Regions from separate parts of the Homo sapiens genome. Here region 1 is linked to region 2. Evidence: fine-mapped expression QTL. Tissue or cell type: whole blood. Region 2 holds a variant in brackets; the other region holds the start of a gene. All regions are shown on one strand. Distances are from middle to middle.

Region 1 (8,092 bases), 47 kb before region 2:
AGGGGCTGACTGGGGTCGTGGAGAGTTTCAAGCCGTGATTTAAGTTCATAAGAGTCCGGAAACAGGAGGTTGGTCTCGTCTCAGCCAATGCCAGTTACACAACACCTTCACGCCCTTCCCTCGAGTGTGCTGGTACAGCTGAGGAAATGAGGTTTGTTGATGTCACTAAGTGCTACGAACTAGTCACTTCTAAAGGCTTCATGTTTTCCCTCCAAAAAGCCTCTGATCCCCCTTTTCCCATGGCACTTCCAGTGGTGAAGTGTTTGGGTTTTGAGGACTGTTGTCCTCATACATTTTCAGGAGCAGCCAGGTGTTGAAATACGTGGGTCCTAACTTTGCTCATGAATGGTGTGTAGCACAGAGGTGGTCAGAAACACGGGGAAAGTGAGGAAGTTGGATAATACCAAGTGTCTTAAGACAGTTGATATCTGGGGCTATCTAGAGCTCAGCCTTTTTAGGGGACACTTGATTTCCTGGAGGGTGATAAGGACCCTGGTGATGGGGAATAATGGTCCGGCTGTTGAAGTCATTGATGTCAGGGGAGCCTGGAATTTGGTGTTGACACCTGATTTCACTTTCCATTTGTACATGGGACTCAGACCCTTAAACTTGTCAAGTATTGTAAACCAAGACCTCCCACAGGAGAGGGGGACCTAGGATGTGGGACAGTTACAGATCTGGCAGTTCCAGGGGACAGACCATCTCCCCAGTAACCCTTGGACAGAATACTGGGGTGACGAGTCAGAAGCTGCAGGGTAGGGGCACCACGGCGGTGAGAGATGGGCCAGGTCCCTGAAGGAGAGCCTGGGTTGGCACCTGCCCAGGTTGTTCGCTGAGTCGTGGTGATGGGCCTGTATTTAGTGGAATAAACTGTGGGGTTGATTCTCTTTGAGGGAGAAGAGGGTAGAAGAGAGGCTTGGTGTGGGGATTTGCCATCCCTGCAAGGAGGTAGCCCTCCACCTACAGGAAGGAGGTGAGGACTGCCTGTTAAACGGTGCAATCATAGTGCTTATCTCTAGGAACAGGAAACTGAATTTCTCATCCAGCCATTTTCTTGTCTTTGGGATGGATTTGAGAATACACATTCTTTTTTTTCCCCCAGGCTATTTTGGGCCCAGCTAAAACAGTCTGTAAAGGCTGTGCTGACCAGCGGAGTGAGTTAGCTGCCACCATAGCTAGAACCCAGAGAACACCCATAAAACGTTCTCAGGCTTACACAAGGATTTTCTCAGGTTCAGGGCCATGGCCCAGGGCTGCCTTTTTGAGAAGCTCCTTCCTCCCCTGCAACCCCAACTGATTTGAATTCAGGTGGTGCAGGGTCCACACTTTCGGAAAAAGCCTTCAAGTGCAACGAAAGTCTTGGTGCAGCAGGTGGGCACTGAGCCTTCATTGCAGAGGACACTGCGGTCCTGAGTGACGCCGTTTCACCCCTGCCGAGGAGGAGGTGTGGGGCAGAGTTTTGATCTATGTGACTCGCTGTGAGGTGGTGTATGTACAAGCACTTCATTGCCCTTGAGAAGCTGGTGGTGCCAGGTGGCCACAGCGTGGATATGCATTGTTGAACGAAATGGCCTCAGGCAGGCCTTGGGGGTTCCTGGATGAGGAGTTCATTTAGTCCTGGAATGGAAATTGAGTATGGTATGTGCAGAAGACGATGAGCTTTTTCCACTCTGTTCTTGGAAAAAGTTTTTTTTTTTTCTATTTTTGAGACAGTCTCGCTCTGTCACCCAGGCTGGAGTGCAGTGGCGCAATCTTGGCTCACTGCAACCTCTGCCTCCTGGGTTGAAGCGAATCTCCTGCCTCACTCGCCCGAGCAGCTGGGATTACAGGCGCCCGCCACCATGCCCGGCTAATTTTTGTATTTTTAGTAGAGATGGGGTTTCTCCATGTTGGCCAGGCTGGTCTCGAACTCCTGACCTCAGGTGATCCATGACTGCCCGCCTCGGCATCCCAAAGTTCTGGGATTACAAGTGTGAGCCACTGCACCCAGCCGAAAAAAGTTTTTTCCTTGATGCTTTTGTAACCGGTATATTAAAAAATATTTTGATTTTGGAATTGTCACTGAGGTGTAATTATGAGCTCTATGATCAGCAAACATGAGAATCTTGTCTCCTAAAACAGTAACCTTAATGATAGGCTTGTTCTTGCAACGCAGAGTTGCAAGTTTCAGGGATTGCTTTTAACGTCATGCATTTTTGGTCCGTTGTCATTAAAATACCCATTTAATAGTTTAACAATAATAAGGGCTCACCTTTAAAAATGACTGGAGAGCCGGGCATGGTGGCTCACGCCTGTAATCCCAGCACTTTGGGAGGCCGAGGCAGGCGGATCACGAGGTCAGGAGATTGAGATCATCCTGGCCAACAGGGTGAAACTCTGTCTCTACCAAAATACAAAAAATTAGCCAGGTGTGGTGGTGCGCGCCTGTAGTCCCAGCTGCTACTGGGGAGGCTGAGGCAGGGGAATCGCTTGAACCCGGGAGGCGGAGATTTGCAGTGAGCTGAGATTGCGCCACTGCACCCCAGCCTGACGACAGACACCATCTCAACTCCCCCCCTTGAAAAAAAAAACCCAAAAAACCTGGAGATTTGTAGTAAAAAAATCCATTTGTTTCTAGCATTCCAGTTTTTGTTTCATTTTGCTTTTGGACATTAAATAATATTACCTAGTTGCAGTCATCGGGAAGAACAGGATGGGGAGAGGATTATGACTGATGAGCATCTCGGCTCTAATTTGTTGCCAGATTAAGCAGTTAGAACTGTTCTTTCTTGAACGATATCTTGACTTTCAGCCTCGCCTTGGGAATTGGAGCCAGGGTTAATGATGGGGGCGGCTTTCTGGTGATGAGAAGTATTGTAAATCAGAGTTTTTCTACCGAAGGGCAGGGGACCTTTGAAAGGGATTAGAGAGGTGTTGGGGGGCTGGTAACTGAGGGGTGGGCGTGTCAGCTTAGGGCTTTCTTCCCTTGTTGGTCACCATTCATGGAGGCAGTTGGTCTGGAAAGAACGAGGAAGAGGCAGGTTTGGTTCAAGCCTCGGTGATCTGGGGCTCCCCCTGGCTAGCTGCTCTGTGGGGAAACACGGCCTTGGGAGGGGAGGCCCTTTGGTTTCCTGGCCTGCTTCCCTGAAGAGTGTTCCTTTCCCCTTGCAGGCGGCCAGCACTGGGCTGACCCGGCTTCTCTATCTACAGCGTAGTTAAAGCGGATCTGGGAGATGGAGGGGTTCCCAACACCCCAGTCTTTGGTTCCAGAAGGCTGGACCGACCTCTCCTTGCCCAGGGATGAATGCAGAGGGTCTTTTGTTTGGGGTTTGCTGGCAATAAAATTGAACGGGAAGAAGGGAAACTGCTGCCGATCCTGCGTGTCTCAGGTGGGTTCCCCCAGTGCCCCTGCGAGGCAGTGAGAGGGGGCCCTCCCTTCACGGGCCTTCTGGGGTTAGAGAGCTGGCGGTCGGCCAGCCCCTGGAACTTTTGCGTTCTTAAGGTAGCTTTAAGACTTGCCGCCGCGGAGACTGGAGGCGCTCATTTAAAATTCCAGTCTTGCTCCCGAGGGCTTTGGCCTCCATCTTCACCTTTAACGACCGAGGGCTGGTGGCGGCGGCTCCTTCCTGCTCTGCGACAGGTGTCGCTTCTGAGCGGGAGTTTTGGGCACAGACATCGCAGATCCGCACCACCCCTAGGGGTCTGCATGGGTTTCAGCTGCACCCAGCCTGGAGGGGCTTTTTGGAAGGGGGCACGTGGGCGGTGGGAGCGGGGAAGCAGGTGAGGGGAGCCCGCCTGCGCGGATTTTTCTGCTGTAAATCAGACCCACAGTCTCCAGAGCGTCTTTTCCCCAAGTGTGGAACACATTTTTCTTCTAATCCTCTTTGGAGAGGGGGTTAGGAACGTGCCGAGGCCGGAGCCGGGAGCGGGGTGGGTCCCGGCGCCTGTGAACCGAGTGGGGGAGCGGGCCGCGCGCTGCCCTGAAGACCCTGCCTCCGCGCCCTTGGGGGCTCGGGGCCCAGCGCCTTCGCAGGCGAGCGGCGGCGGCTGGCTCTGCCCGGGGTGCGCGGGGGCGGTGTTTCCTCGCCTCCCCCTGCGCCCGGGCTCGCCAAGCCCCGACTGCCCGCTCGGCCGTCGGGTCCGCGGGCGCGCGGACGCCTCGACGGCTCCCCCTGCCGGGGCGCCCCCCGGTCCCCACCCTCACCCGGCGGCTCAGGACTAGTCCCCCAACTTGTTCTCTGCTGTTAACTAGTCGCGCTGCCGGAACGATGGGATGGGGTTGCCACAGCAACCAGACTGGACGTCACAATCCGGGCATGTGTGCCGCCCCCCCGCCGTGCCGCCGTGCCTCTGGCGCTGCCGCCGCCACCCTCGGCCGGCTGCGGGACTCGGGCTGCGGGGCGCGGTGGGAGGAGCGCCCGGGCTTTGCGGGGAGCAGGCTAAGGCGGCCGAGAGAAAGGGGGGTCGAGACGGGGGGGTGGAGGTTTGGGGGGGTGGGGGGGCAGGCGGCCGCCATCTTCTCGCCGAGGCCGCCTCGCCCGCCGCGCGCGCCGGTCCGGCAGCGCACGGGTTAAGGCTGGCACCGCGCCCGGCGGGAGGGGGGGCGCCCACCTCCCCTCCTCCCCGCGCCGGGCATGCGGGGCCCAGTGGGCACCGAGGAGGAGCTGCCGCGGCTGTTCGCCGAGGAGATGGAGAATGAGGACGAGATGTCAGGTGAGCGGGGCGCGGGTGCGCCTGGGGCCAGAGCGGCGGGGGCGCCGAGACGGGCCGGGCCCAGGGCGGAGCGCGGGCGGCGGGGGCGGCGCGGCCGGGCTGGCGCCTCGCAGGAGGGGCACCCGGGTTGCGGGGCTGCGCTCCCGCCCTGCTGGCGCCGCGCGGCCAAGGGCGAAGGCTGGGTGAGCGCCCGGGCCGGCGTGAGGGCGGCTAAGGGCGGGGTGCGATCCGGGCCCCCCGGGCGGCGACGCGGGCCAGGCGGGCCAGAGGACCGCGGGCCGGGGCCTGCGCTGGGGGGCGCGGCGCTGTCAGGGTCAGCCCGCGTGCCCTTGAAGGGGGCGGGAATCGCGCTAGCTCCCGGAGCGGCGCACCCCGCGCTCGCGTCCCGCCGCCGTGCGCCTCTGGCCTCGCTGCGGGCAGGCGGGACCCGGCCCCTGGCCCATGTCGGCCGCGGGGCGGGCTGGGTGGGGCCCAGAGAGGGGCGAGGACCGGCGGTGCTTGGGGACGCGTTGAGCGCCCAGGATGGGGCGGCTTCCCTCCCGGCCCAGGAGGACTCCGCTCTGGGACGCACGGGCTCGGACCCCTGCTCCTCTTTCCTGGCCTCTGTGCGCTGTGACCGCCGCTCCCAAGCACTTTACCCGGGCCGCCGGCGTCCTTCTGGCGCGACCTAGCGCCCGCCGCTGTCTCCAGCCTCACCATCGCCCAGGGTGGTGGCCGTTCCCAGCCCACCCTGCCTTGGCTACGGGCCTGACGCCCCAGGGCCACCGCCCCTGCCCCTACCATCTCTCTCCTTTTATCTCTCTCAGAATTTAGTATACACAGGGCTGTGCGCCAGGGGTTGCCTTGCGGGACAGTTCTTTAGTTAACTGCTCACCATTTGTTTGGGACGTTTTCCCTCCTGGCACAGCTGGGTAGGGCCCCACCCTGTCAGCCACCCTCCCTCCTTTCTGGGAGACTCTTACTTCTCGGCTTCCCTGCGCCAAGTCTGTGGCCTCTCTGGACTTCGGAGAGACTTGTGGGAGGCTGGAGGCCCTCCCGGGCCCAGGAACGTGCATCTGGCCCCTTCTGACTTCCAGGGGTGAGAAGACTCCACAAATGGACACCTCCAGCTCCTGTTGGAGGAAGCAGCCAGCGTCTTCTGGGGAGGGTATTCCCACCAGGTGGCCACACCCCCTGCCCCCTTCTGTTTGCTTGCTTGGTTAGTTGGTGGCTTTAATGCTGTCACTGAGCTCCTACAGGAGCCCGGCACTCACCTCGCCTGTTAGACAGGCCAAGTTGGCAGCGAGCGTGCTGGGGACGGGGAATAGGGGAGTCCTCTCTTGGGGTGGAGTTGCCTGGACAATAGTTGACTGTCATATCCTGGGTCCTTGGAATTAGACCCATTCTCCGGAGGGGAACTCTGAGGCCCCGCACAGGCACAAAAAAAAATCAGTGGCCATTTTCCACCTAGGAGGCTGGCTCCCCAGTAAGCCAGTTTACTGGTTTTCTCAGCAAGTTGTTTGTTATGGTGTTTGGGGTGTGGCCCTTTTGTGGGATCAGTGGCATTTCTGGGGTTGCACCGACCCGCTGGTGGAGTCCCCTGGCTGTCTTTCCCATCTTACACTCCGGCTCTCTCTGACTATGTGGGGACTTAGAGGTTGGGGAGGGGAAGAGGCCAGGGAAGGTGCCCCCAGTCTAGTAGGCACCCGACTCACTGCTTGGGCCAGAGAGGCGGGGCTCTGGTCATCCTGCCCACCACCCGTGCTCCCCCTCGGTGGGTTGGCCCCAGAGCCTCCAGGAGTGCCCCCAGAGCCCTGCAGAAGAGACGCCCTGCTCTGGCACCTCTGGCCTGGGGATTCTGTCCCCATCCATCAGCAAGGCCAGCTGCTCCACCTCCAGAGCCTTTCCAGGCTCCTGGCTTCTCTCCATGTTCTGGGTCCAAGCCTCTGTCCCCTCCTGCCGGTCCCCTCCAGGGCCTTCTACCCACTCCTTCTGACCACCCACTGCACAGCAGCTGGGGTCACCTCGTGAACCCAAGTCAGATCCCGACCCGCATGGCTCCAGTCGCCTCTGAAACCCTTGTCCCGGGTCCACTCCTGTACCCCTTTGTTCACAGCAGCCACGCTGGCCTCCTTGCTGCTTCTGGAACACTCCACGCTCCACGCTCCATCCTGCCATGGGGCCCTGGCTGTGACCTCTGCCTGACCTGCTCTTTCCTCTGCTCACCGCTGCCTCCTGGTCATTTAGGTCCCAGCTCGAATGTTATGATGGGGAGGGACACCCTTGCTAAGGGCCTTCCAGTCACTCTGAGACACATTGTCATGCTTTCTTTGGAAGAGATGGGGTCTTGCTGTGTTGCCCAAGCTGGATTTGAACTCCTGTGCTCAAGCGATCCTCCTGCCTCAACCTCCCTAGTAGCTGGGACTACATGCTTGTGTCACCACACCTCACATACTCGAAACGTTGTCATCAGTTTCCTCCTGGATCTGTGGGTTCCCCTTCGAATGTAACTCTCGATAACCTGCCATGCCCAGCACCTGAAACCATGCGTTCCTGAGAGATGGTTGTGGTTTCAGTGTCTGAGGGCTGGGACTCTCTAGGTCACCCCAGCTTCTGGCTGTGAAGACAGCCCTAGCCAGGCCTCCTGTCAAGTCGCACTGCTGGCCCCCCACTCACCCTGAGCTCTTCCTCATAGCCCCTATGCAGCCCTGAGTCCAAGCTCAGTGGCGGTGACCCCCAAAGACCAGAACCAGCTGGTTCCAAAAGATGGAAGTTTGTGGCTGGAGGAGCTAGTGTTTTGGAAGCTGTCATGATGATTTTTCAGTCTACGGCTATTAAACTCATGACTTGTCCGATCTTTTTTCTTTGACTCTGCTCATCTCCCACCTCCCCCTGGGAGTTGCTCACTCTCAGCAGTGAATTATTGTTTCCCGTGCAGTGATGGTGGGGAGGGGGAGGTTTGCCCTGGCCAGCTCTGGCATTGAGGCAGGTGTCTGAGCCAGCTTCTAGGAGGAAGGCAGGGCGGGTGCCTCTTCTGGTTGGGGGACCAGCAGTTGCCAGATTCTCCTGGGAGTTGGGGTGGCTGGTTGAAGCCAGGGGTCAAGAGCTGGTGGGATGAGGCCTTGGCTTCTAGCTCTGAGCATTAGCTGAGTGGTCTTGGACAAGCCAGGCAGCCCTCTCCTCGGTGTGCCCACTTGTAGTATGGGGACATAGCACTGGCTACCTCATAGAGGGTTATTATGAGGAACAGTGAGACAGTGCATGTGGAACATTAGGCCACAGTGCCCAGCACATGATAGGTGCTCAATAAACTGTGGCTGGTGTAGTTAGCACCAGCCAAGGAGGGCAGCTGTCCTGCCTTCTCCAAGGAAATGCTTCTGATACTTGCATCCTTAGCCAGTAAGCTCAGGGGAGTAGGAGC
Region 2 (8,101 bases):
CGTGGTGGCTCACGCCTGTAATCCCAACACTATGGGAGGTCGAGGTGGGCGGTTCACTTGAGTTCAGAAGTTTGAGACCAGCTTCAGCAACATGGTGAAACCCTGTCTCTACAAAAATACAAAAATTAGCTGGGTGTGGTAAGGCATGCCTGTAGTCCCAGCTACTCGGGAGGCTGAGATGGGAGGATTGCTTGAGCCTGGGAGGTGGAGGCTGCAAGTGAGTGGTGATCGTGCCACTGTACTCCACGCTGGGGGGTGGGAGTAAGACACTGTCTCACTGGAGCTGTTACAAGCCGAGGCCGTTTCTTCTCCTCCTCCACACCACCCTCTCTCAGGGCTGTGTTCTGAGCCTCAGTGGATGCCCCTCTGCTTGGTGGTCAGCATCTGCCCCTCTGGTCCTAGGCTGGCCGGCCCAGGGCTCCGTGGAGCCTTTGTGGGTTCCTGTGCACACCTCCTTCTTGGCTCTTTGTCTCCTGGGACTGTGATCCGCTCTGCTCCCAGCCGTCTCATCCCCAATGCCCCTCTTTTCTCCAGAAAGAAGTGCAGATCAAATTCCACGTGCTGCTCACCTCCTATGAGCTCATCACCATTGACCAGGCCATCCTGGGCTCCATCGAGTGGGCCTGCCTGGTGGTAGATGAGGCCCACCGCCTCAAGAACAACCAGTCCAAGGTAGGTGGCGCTGGCCGCCAGACCCCAGAGCTTCCCGGGGCGAGGGGCCGCCCAGAGCCCCCTGACAGGCCCCACTCTCCTCCCCTCAGTTTTTTAGGGTCTTAAACAGCTACAAGATTGATTACAAGCTGCTGCTGACAGGGACCCCCCTTCAGAACAACCTGGAGGAGCTGTTCCATCTCCTCAACTTCCTGACTCCAGAGAGGTTCAAGTGAGTCACCTGGATCTGGCTAGGGAGGTGGTGGTGGGGCTGGGTGGCCCCAGTGAAGACGGATCAATAGCCCATCCTGGCTGTGAGACCTGCTCGGCCGTTGCTTCCTCATCAGTAAAATGGGAGCATTAGCAATGTCCCCGCTTTGACCTCCTGCAGGAGCAGGGTGTTGGGGTGGGTGGCGTGGGCACATGGGAATGTTTGGTAAATATCAACTGCTGCTAATACCACGACTTTTCCTTAGCTCTGCCCTAGACCACCCGGGGTTCCTCCTGGACTGCCTCCCCTGGCAGGTTCCTTTCCCTCCACTGAGACCCAAGTGACTCACATAGGCAACCGTGGTGGAGGCAGAGGCAAGCTCCCCGGTGGCCGGAGCCCACCGCCCCATCCCCCTCATCTTCACCTACCTCCACTTGCCTGCTCAGAATGGGGGGTTCAGGGTGCACAGTGTCGATTTTGGAATCAGGAGATGCAGTGTTTTTTTTTTTTGTTGTTTTTTTTTATTAAAAGAAAGAGTCTCACTCTGTCACCCAGGCCAGAGTGCAGTGGCTTGATCTCAGTTCACTGCAACCTCCGCCTCCTGGGTTCAAGTGATTCTCCTGCCTCAGCCTCCTGAGTAGCTGGGATTACAGGCATGTGTCACCACGCCCGGCTAATTTTTGTATATCTTTAGTAGAGTTGGGGTTTCATCATATTGGCCAGGCTGGTCTTGAACTCCCGACGGGTGATCTGCCCGTCTCGGCCTCCCAAAGTGTTGGGATTACAGGCATGAGCCACCAGGAGATGTAGATTTGAGGGCCGGTTTTGGCACAGCTGGACTGTATCAACTCGGGCACTCATCAGAGTCAGTTTCCTCATCTGTTATCTGGGTAATAGAGAGCTCCTGTCCAGGACGGTTTTGAGGATGGAAAGGTGTCCAGTGTGGCTGAGGAAAAGAGGGCTGTGATGTGTGGAGGTGACACAGGCTTAGACAGAAATTGAGACGATATCCAGGGCAATGCCAGGGCTCCCTGGTTCACCAGCTAGCCGGCCTACATGGGCTAGGCGCTCTGCACCCTGCCTCCCCTGCCCCGGTCCTCTGCTCCTGGCTGTTATCCCAGCTTTTTGTTGCAGCAACCTGGAGGGCTTCCTGGAGGAGTTTGCTGACATCTCCAAGGAAGACCAGATCAAGAAGCTGCATGACCTGCTGGGGCCGCACATGCTCAGGCGGCTCAAGGCTGACGTGTTCAAGAACATGCCGGCCAAGACCGAGCTCATTGTCCGGGTGGAGCTGAGCCAGATGCAGAAGTGAGTGATGGGCTGACCCCGGAGCAGCCTGTGCTCGCCCTTTCCCCTGGGCTGGTCTCCTGGGTCGATTCCCAGGTGGGCGGAGGGCTCTTCAGCCTCACTGAGGTCTCGGCTAATGCTTTGCATACACTTTCTTCGTGGGGCCTCTTCTCAGGTTTTAGTGACCAGAGTTTGGGTCGCTTGAGTGCTGGCAGTGTCCCCCAGTCACTTGCAGGGGGACTCCAGGCCGGTGGCTTCACCTCTTGGGGGTCCCTTGGGTCTCTCTGTAAATGGGTGCTTGGCCACCAGCTTCCAGCCCCACTGCAGAGCAGAGAGAGCCCTCATGGAGGCGGGTCTGACCCAGCCTGCCTTTCCTCGTGCCCTGCTGCAGGAAGTACTACAAGTTCATCCTCACACGGAACTTTGAGGCACTGAACTCCAAGGGGGGCGGGAACCAAGTATCGCTGCTCAACATCATGATGGACCTGAAAAAGTGCTGCAACCACCCCTACCTCTTCCCTGTGGCTGCCGTGGTAGGTTTCCCCGGCCATCATGGCAGCTTCTCCATGACCGCCATGGTAGGTGCCTGTGGCCGCCATGGTAGGTCCCTGTGGCCGCTGTGATAGGTTCTCCTGGCCATTGTGGCGATTTCTGTGGCTGTCATGGTAGGTTTCCCTGGCCATCATGGAAGGTTGCCTGTGGCCACTCTGGTAGGTGCTGGGGAACTTACCGTGGAACCCGCTGCTGTGGTAGGGCTGGTGCGGCTGTGAGCCCTGCCTGGGAACGGGGGGCCTGGAGCCAGGGCCGTGGGACCCACGGTCTACCCCGCACTGTGGGGCCTGGCCTGGCTCGGGTGTGGGTCTCATGTTCAGTGGGCAGACAGGCCATCACCCCATTGCTCAGCACTTGTCTGTTCCCTGCGGCCCCTTTGGTGCAGAGTCAGAGAGGAGAGGGGAGCCCACCAATGCCCCACCTCCTGCTGTGTCTGCAGGAGGCCCCTGTCTTGCCCAATGGCTCCTACGATGGAAGCTCCCTGGTCAAGTCTTCAGGGAAGCTCATGCTGCTACAGAAGATGCTGAAGAAACTGCGGGATGAGGGGCACCGTGTGCTCATCTTCTCCCAGGTGCGCTGCCCCTGCCCACCCCCGCCCCGGCTCCACACCCCACAGAGAGCATCCTGCCCTGATGCTTGGGGGCGCAAACTTGCTGGCACCCCTCAGGGCCCAGTGCCGTTCCCATGTGGGTCATGTGACTGTGTGTCAGGGGTCACTCCCCCGTGCCCTGGCATAATGCGGCTGAGGAGCTCAGAACACATTTGCCATAAAGAGCAACATCTCCCCACACCTGCCCTTCTGGTCTGCATGTCCAGGCTGGTAGGACAGCCCCTCCTCCCCTGCCCTGGCCCTCTCCCCCGCAGCCTGGCTTCTCATTAAGGTAGGGCCCTGGGGTGTGGTTGGGAGGAGCCCCTCTCTCCAATAGGCCCTGAGGGGCCACTGGCACCTGGCTTTTTGGCTTGGAGGCAGGGCCGCCGGCTCAGGTGTGTTCATTTCTTCCTCCATCCCTTTGTTTGCGTCTGTCATAGTCAGGCTCTGTGCTGGCACATGGGTGCAGGGACCAGTGATCTAGTCCCTGTCCTCAAGCTGCTCAGTCTACTGTGGGAGACAGCTCAAGGGACAGGTACCCGACCCTGTGGTCAGCTCTGTGTTGGAGGCCACAGTGATGATCCTACAGGGTCATGGGGCTAAAAATGCTCCTCTCGTGGGCCCACTGAGCCAGGCCCCTTGCTCAAACCCAGAGTCTGGGCTATGGCTCCTTGTGCACAAACATCAACTGAAAGCAGCGTCCGCCGCCTGCAGCCCCAGGTCACCCTGCTGGGCTGCTTCAGCCCGAAGAATACTGGAAAGCAGGGCAAGTTTGAGACCAGGGGCTGAGCCAAGGAGTGGGCTGGAGTGGAGATGGACCCACATCCCCCCAGTACCTCGGTACCAACACGAGACGCAAGTCTGATCAGAGGCCTTGAGATACCAAGTAATGGGAACCACACAGCTTCCAGAAATGTGCACACAGGGCAAGCGACAGAGACGGGGCCCTCCTGCCCAAAATGAGCCTATGAACCCCAATTCCAAACCCATACAAAAGTGAATGCTGAGACATCCCCCAAAACAATAAATAGAATCCAAATAAGAAAATAGGGGCTGGGCGCAGTGGCTCACCCTGTAATCTCAG[C/T]GACTTGGGAGGTTGAGGCAGGAGGATTGCTTGAGCCCAGGAGTTCAGGGTTGCAGTGAGCTGTGATCTTGTCACTTCACTCCAGTCTGAGTGACAGAGCAAGACCCTGTCTCTTGAGAGAGAGAGAGAGAGAGAGAGAGAGAGAAAAGAATAGGATAGCCTGAAAAGACTTTACATAGATGTGTTTAGGATCCTCAAAAATGATGGAGTAATTGACACCCTAAAATAAAGAAGAAATTAAGCAAAAGCAGGAAGAACTGAAATAGGAACAATTGGATAGAAACATGCATGAAATTGAGATAAAACATTTCAACAGACTGGACAGACTCTGAACACTGTTGAAGAGAACATTGATAAATTGGAACCTGGTGCTGAGGCATTTTCCCAGAATGCAATGTACAGAGACAAAGATAAAACAGGGAGAACATGGAAGACACCTTGAGATGCTCCAACAATCATCCAATTGGAGTTGCAGAAGAAACAGAAAAAATGGTGAAGAAGTTGGATTTGTTGAGAGTTTGCAGACCTGGAGAGAAATGTGAGGTCTCAGATCTGGAGTGCATTCTGGAATAGCAAGCAAGATAAATATAAATAAATGAACCCGTAGACACGTTAGAACCTCTAGGTACTTTAGACCTAGTACCTACAAAATAAGGGCAGCCAGATCGTTCTCAGACTTCTTAACAACAACAGGTGGCAGAGACCATGGCAAAATCTCCGGTGCACTGAGGGAAAATGTGTGCTGATAGTTTTATATCCAGCTAAACTCTCTCTCGAGAATAAAGGGAATTATACGGGGTCATGGGAGCTCAGAAGGGACTGCCTTTCTTTTCTTATGGGGAGGAGTGAAATCAGGGAAGACATCACAGAGGTGATGTTTATGTTCCCTAGGCAGTAAGGGGGTGGGCATTCCAGGAAGAGAGTCAGGTAGTTTGGAATGGCTGGGGGCTGTGAAGGAGCACTCGTCCTGCAGCGCCTTGAATACAGGGCAGTGAGATGGAACTTAATTCTGTGTGGTGGGAGCAGGGGAGGCTCATGTCAGAGCCCTGATTTAGGTAAGTGGCTGTGGGGCTAGGCAGGAGGATGGATTGGCTCCAAGGGGTGAGGTTGGAAGCTTTGTTCTTCCCCAGAGTCCTGCATTGGGCCTGCCTGGGTCCCAGCTGTCTCCCCACCTAGCAGGCAGCTCTCTCCTCCCCTGCCTGTGGCGGGGTCCCCGCCCATGGCCCATGGGGCCCCTTGCTCCTTGGCAGTTCCTCACGTGCCCGTCTCCCCTGCAGATGACCAAGATGCTGGACCTCCTGGAGGACTTCCTGGAGTACGAAGGCTACAAGTATGAGCGGATTGATGGTGGCATCACCGGGGGCCTCCGGCAGGAGGCAATCGACAGATTCAATGGTACCCCCATCCTGCCCAAGGGTTCTGATTGAGACTCCTTTTTGGCCTCTTCTCCCAGGCCTGGTTCTTAGCCAGGTCACCCAGCTGGTGTTGTGTTGAGCAGCCTCACAAACAGCTAAAGACAGCAGGCCAGTCCGAGTTTCCAATGTTAAAAGGATTCCTCCCATGGAATCGGAGTTCTGAGGGGCCCAGTAGATAACACCTGTTGGGAATGGAGTTAGACAATGAGAAACGCAGACGGGGCCTCTAATATTGACGCCAGGTGAGCCCCAGTTACAAGTGGTGTTGGACAGAGCCTGCCGTATGGTGAATGGTGGCAGAAGGTACAGAGATGCACGTGCTACCTGGGGCCACTTCCAGAGGCAGGAGAGAGTGAAAGGGCTGGGCCACACATGATCAGGCTCTTTCCCCAGAGTCACCCATGCTTGGTCTTCCCTGCCTGGGAAGGAGAGGCGAGGGTGGAGGTCAGGAGGGTCTTGCCGGTGGAGTTCCTCCTGTAGCAAAAGAAACTTCTGGAGTGGGAAGCAGTCGGCTGTAAGCTTCAGTAGCAAGTTTGCAGCAAATAGTAACAAGCTTTGTTTCCCTGGGGCGTCAGCCCTTAGGGGCTGGGGCCACGCTCTCCAAACGCCCAAAGCAGTGATTCCTCTCAAACACTTGTGCCAGAGAGCCAGGAGGAATAGCAAGTTCAGAGTTTCAGGGTCTAGACGTGGCCCAGCCACATGTGGAAGCAGGAGTGGCTGAAGCCCTGGGTGTGCCAGGGGCCTGTTTGCAGCTCCAGTGGGGGCTGTGGTCAGTCCCAGGTCACTGAAGGGCCCTGAGAGGCTGAGAACCAGCCATCCTGTGACAGGGTTGCCCAGTGGGGTGGGACCCCAGGTCCCGGAGCTGCGCCCCTGAGTTTTCCCGGGCTGCCCTGGCAGCATCGGTGGGCTAAGGGAAGCCAGGGGTGGGAAGCTGCGGGGACATGAAGGACTCTGAGCTCTCTAGGGCTCTGCTTGTACTTGCTGGCGGCTTGCACTTTGTTTTTTGCTCATCTGGGGTTTGAAAATTGACCTCCTCGTTCCAGTGCCCTCCCACTGCACTAGGGCTCAGAGCTCGCTGGGGGCTAAGTGGGCTTGGGCAGGCCTCCTCTGGCTCCCCTGAGTGCAGCTGTGGCCACCCGTCTCTGATGGGGTCTCCGGCTTTGTCCTTCTCTGCCAGGGATCTGTTGCTGCAGTTCCTTCTCTCTGTTCTCTCCCCCATCCTTTCTGCCCACCCAAGGTGTACCCCCCCAAACACTCCCATCTGCTGGCCTCTCTTTTTCAGCCCCCGGGGCCCAGCAGTTCTGCTTCCTCCTCTCAACCCGGGCAGGTGGTCTGGGCATCAACCTGGCCACGGCGGACACTGTCATCATCTACGACTCGGACTGGAACCCGCACAATGACATCCAGGTCTGTGCTGCTGCCGCCCACCACCCTCCCAGGGGGCCTCTCATCCCGGGCCTCAGGCAGGTTCTGTCCTTCATGCCCTTCTTGCCATCACCCCCTCACCTATCCTGGTGCTGTGGGCCTCCCTCCCCCGTGGAGTCTCGGCCCCAAGAGGGGCTCTGGGAGTGAGTGGAAGCTTGGCCCCCATCCCTCCAGCTCTGTCCTTGTCCAGAGGAGGAAGCAGGCTTGGAGAGGGCAGGGGAAGTGTCCCAGGGCGCACAGCAGTTCCTAGTGGCCACTGATCTGGTCTTTCCCATCATCCTCAGGACCAAGGCCGTGGAGGGAGGCAGGAAGAGGGAGCCCTGGGACCCAGAGGGGCACCCATTTTGAAGGGGGTGGGGAGCAGAGAGTGGGGCCTGTTGGAGGTGGAGGGGAGGATAAGATAGTGCAAGGGGCAGATGGGGCTGTAAGGAAGGATGGAAGGGCTGTGGGGGGAGGGGTATGGGAATAGAGCCACCCTAGTGTACCTGGCCACCCCTCTCGGGCGCTGGGACACACACATTGAATGCTTACAAATGTAGGGGAACACATACAAATTGATGTCTCATTCACATGTGTGTGCGCCCATGCACATACACAGATATACACGGCCACACCCAGGTCACCTCATGTAGGGCTGCACAGAGTCTCAGGCACTTCCTTGTATTATACTGGGCAGATTCAGCTCCTTGCTGCCCTCAGAAGGTGGCTGCGTGTCTCCAGCACATGGTCTTGTGGTCCCATTAGTGGTTCGCTCACAGGGAAATGCAGCCTCCTACCTCCCCGTGGCCCCCACGAAGCTCTGTGTGGCTTCAGTTACACCCAGCACACTGGCCGTATCATCCCTCACACACTCTTGCACACCTGCAGTCCTGCCTGCTTCCAATGGC

What was found. PIP is the estimated chance that this variant, and not a neighbour inherited with it, causes the effect.
Region 1: CHD5 starts here. The variant in region 2 is fine-mapped to the expression of CHD5 in whole blood (TOPMed, PIP above 0.99).

The regions. Positions count from the first base shown.
Region 1 is chr1:6,176,545-6,184,636 of GRCh38, reverse strand. CHD5 (chromodomain helicase DNA binding protein 5) reads left to right here and starts at 4,316. Exons shown (of 42, transcript NM_015557.3): 1 at 4,316-4,692. The coding sequence starts at 4,614. RefSeq lists enhancers at 5,059-5,558, 5,559-6,060.
Region 2 is chr1:6,129,299-6,137,399 of GRCh38, reverse strand. It overlaps CHD5 (chromodomain helicase DNA binding protein 5), which reads left to right. Exons shown (of 42, transcript NM_015557.3): 16 at 535-672; 17 at 762-883; 18 at 1,997-2,170; 19 at 2,541-2,682; 20 at 3,141-3,272; 21 at 5,652-5,769; 22 at 7,072-7,196. Among named protein-coding and RNA genes, the nearest start is that of CHD5, 47 kb to the left of the region's middle. The variant C/T (reference allele first, on the strand shown) is at 4,375.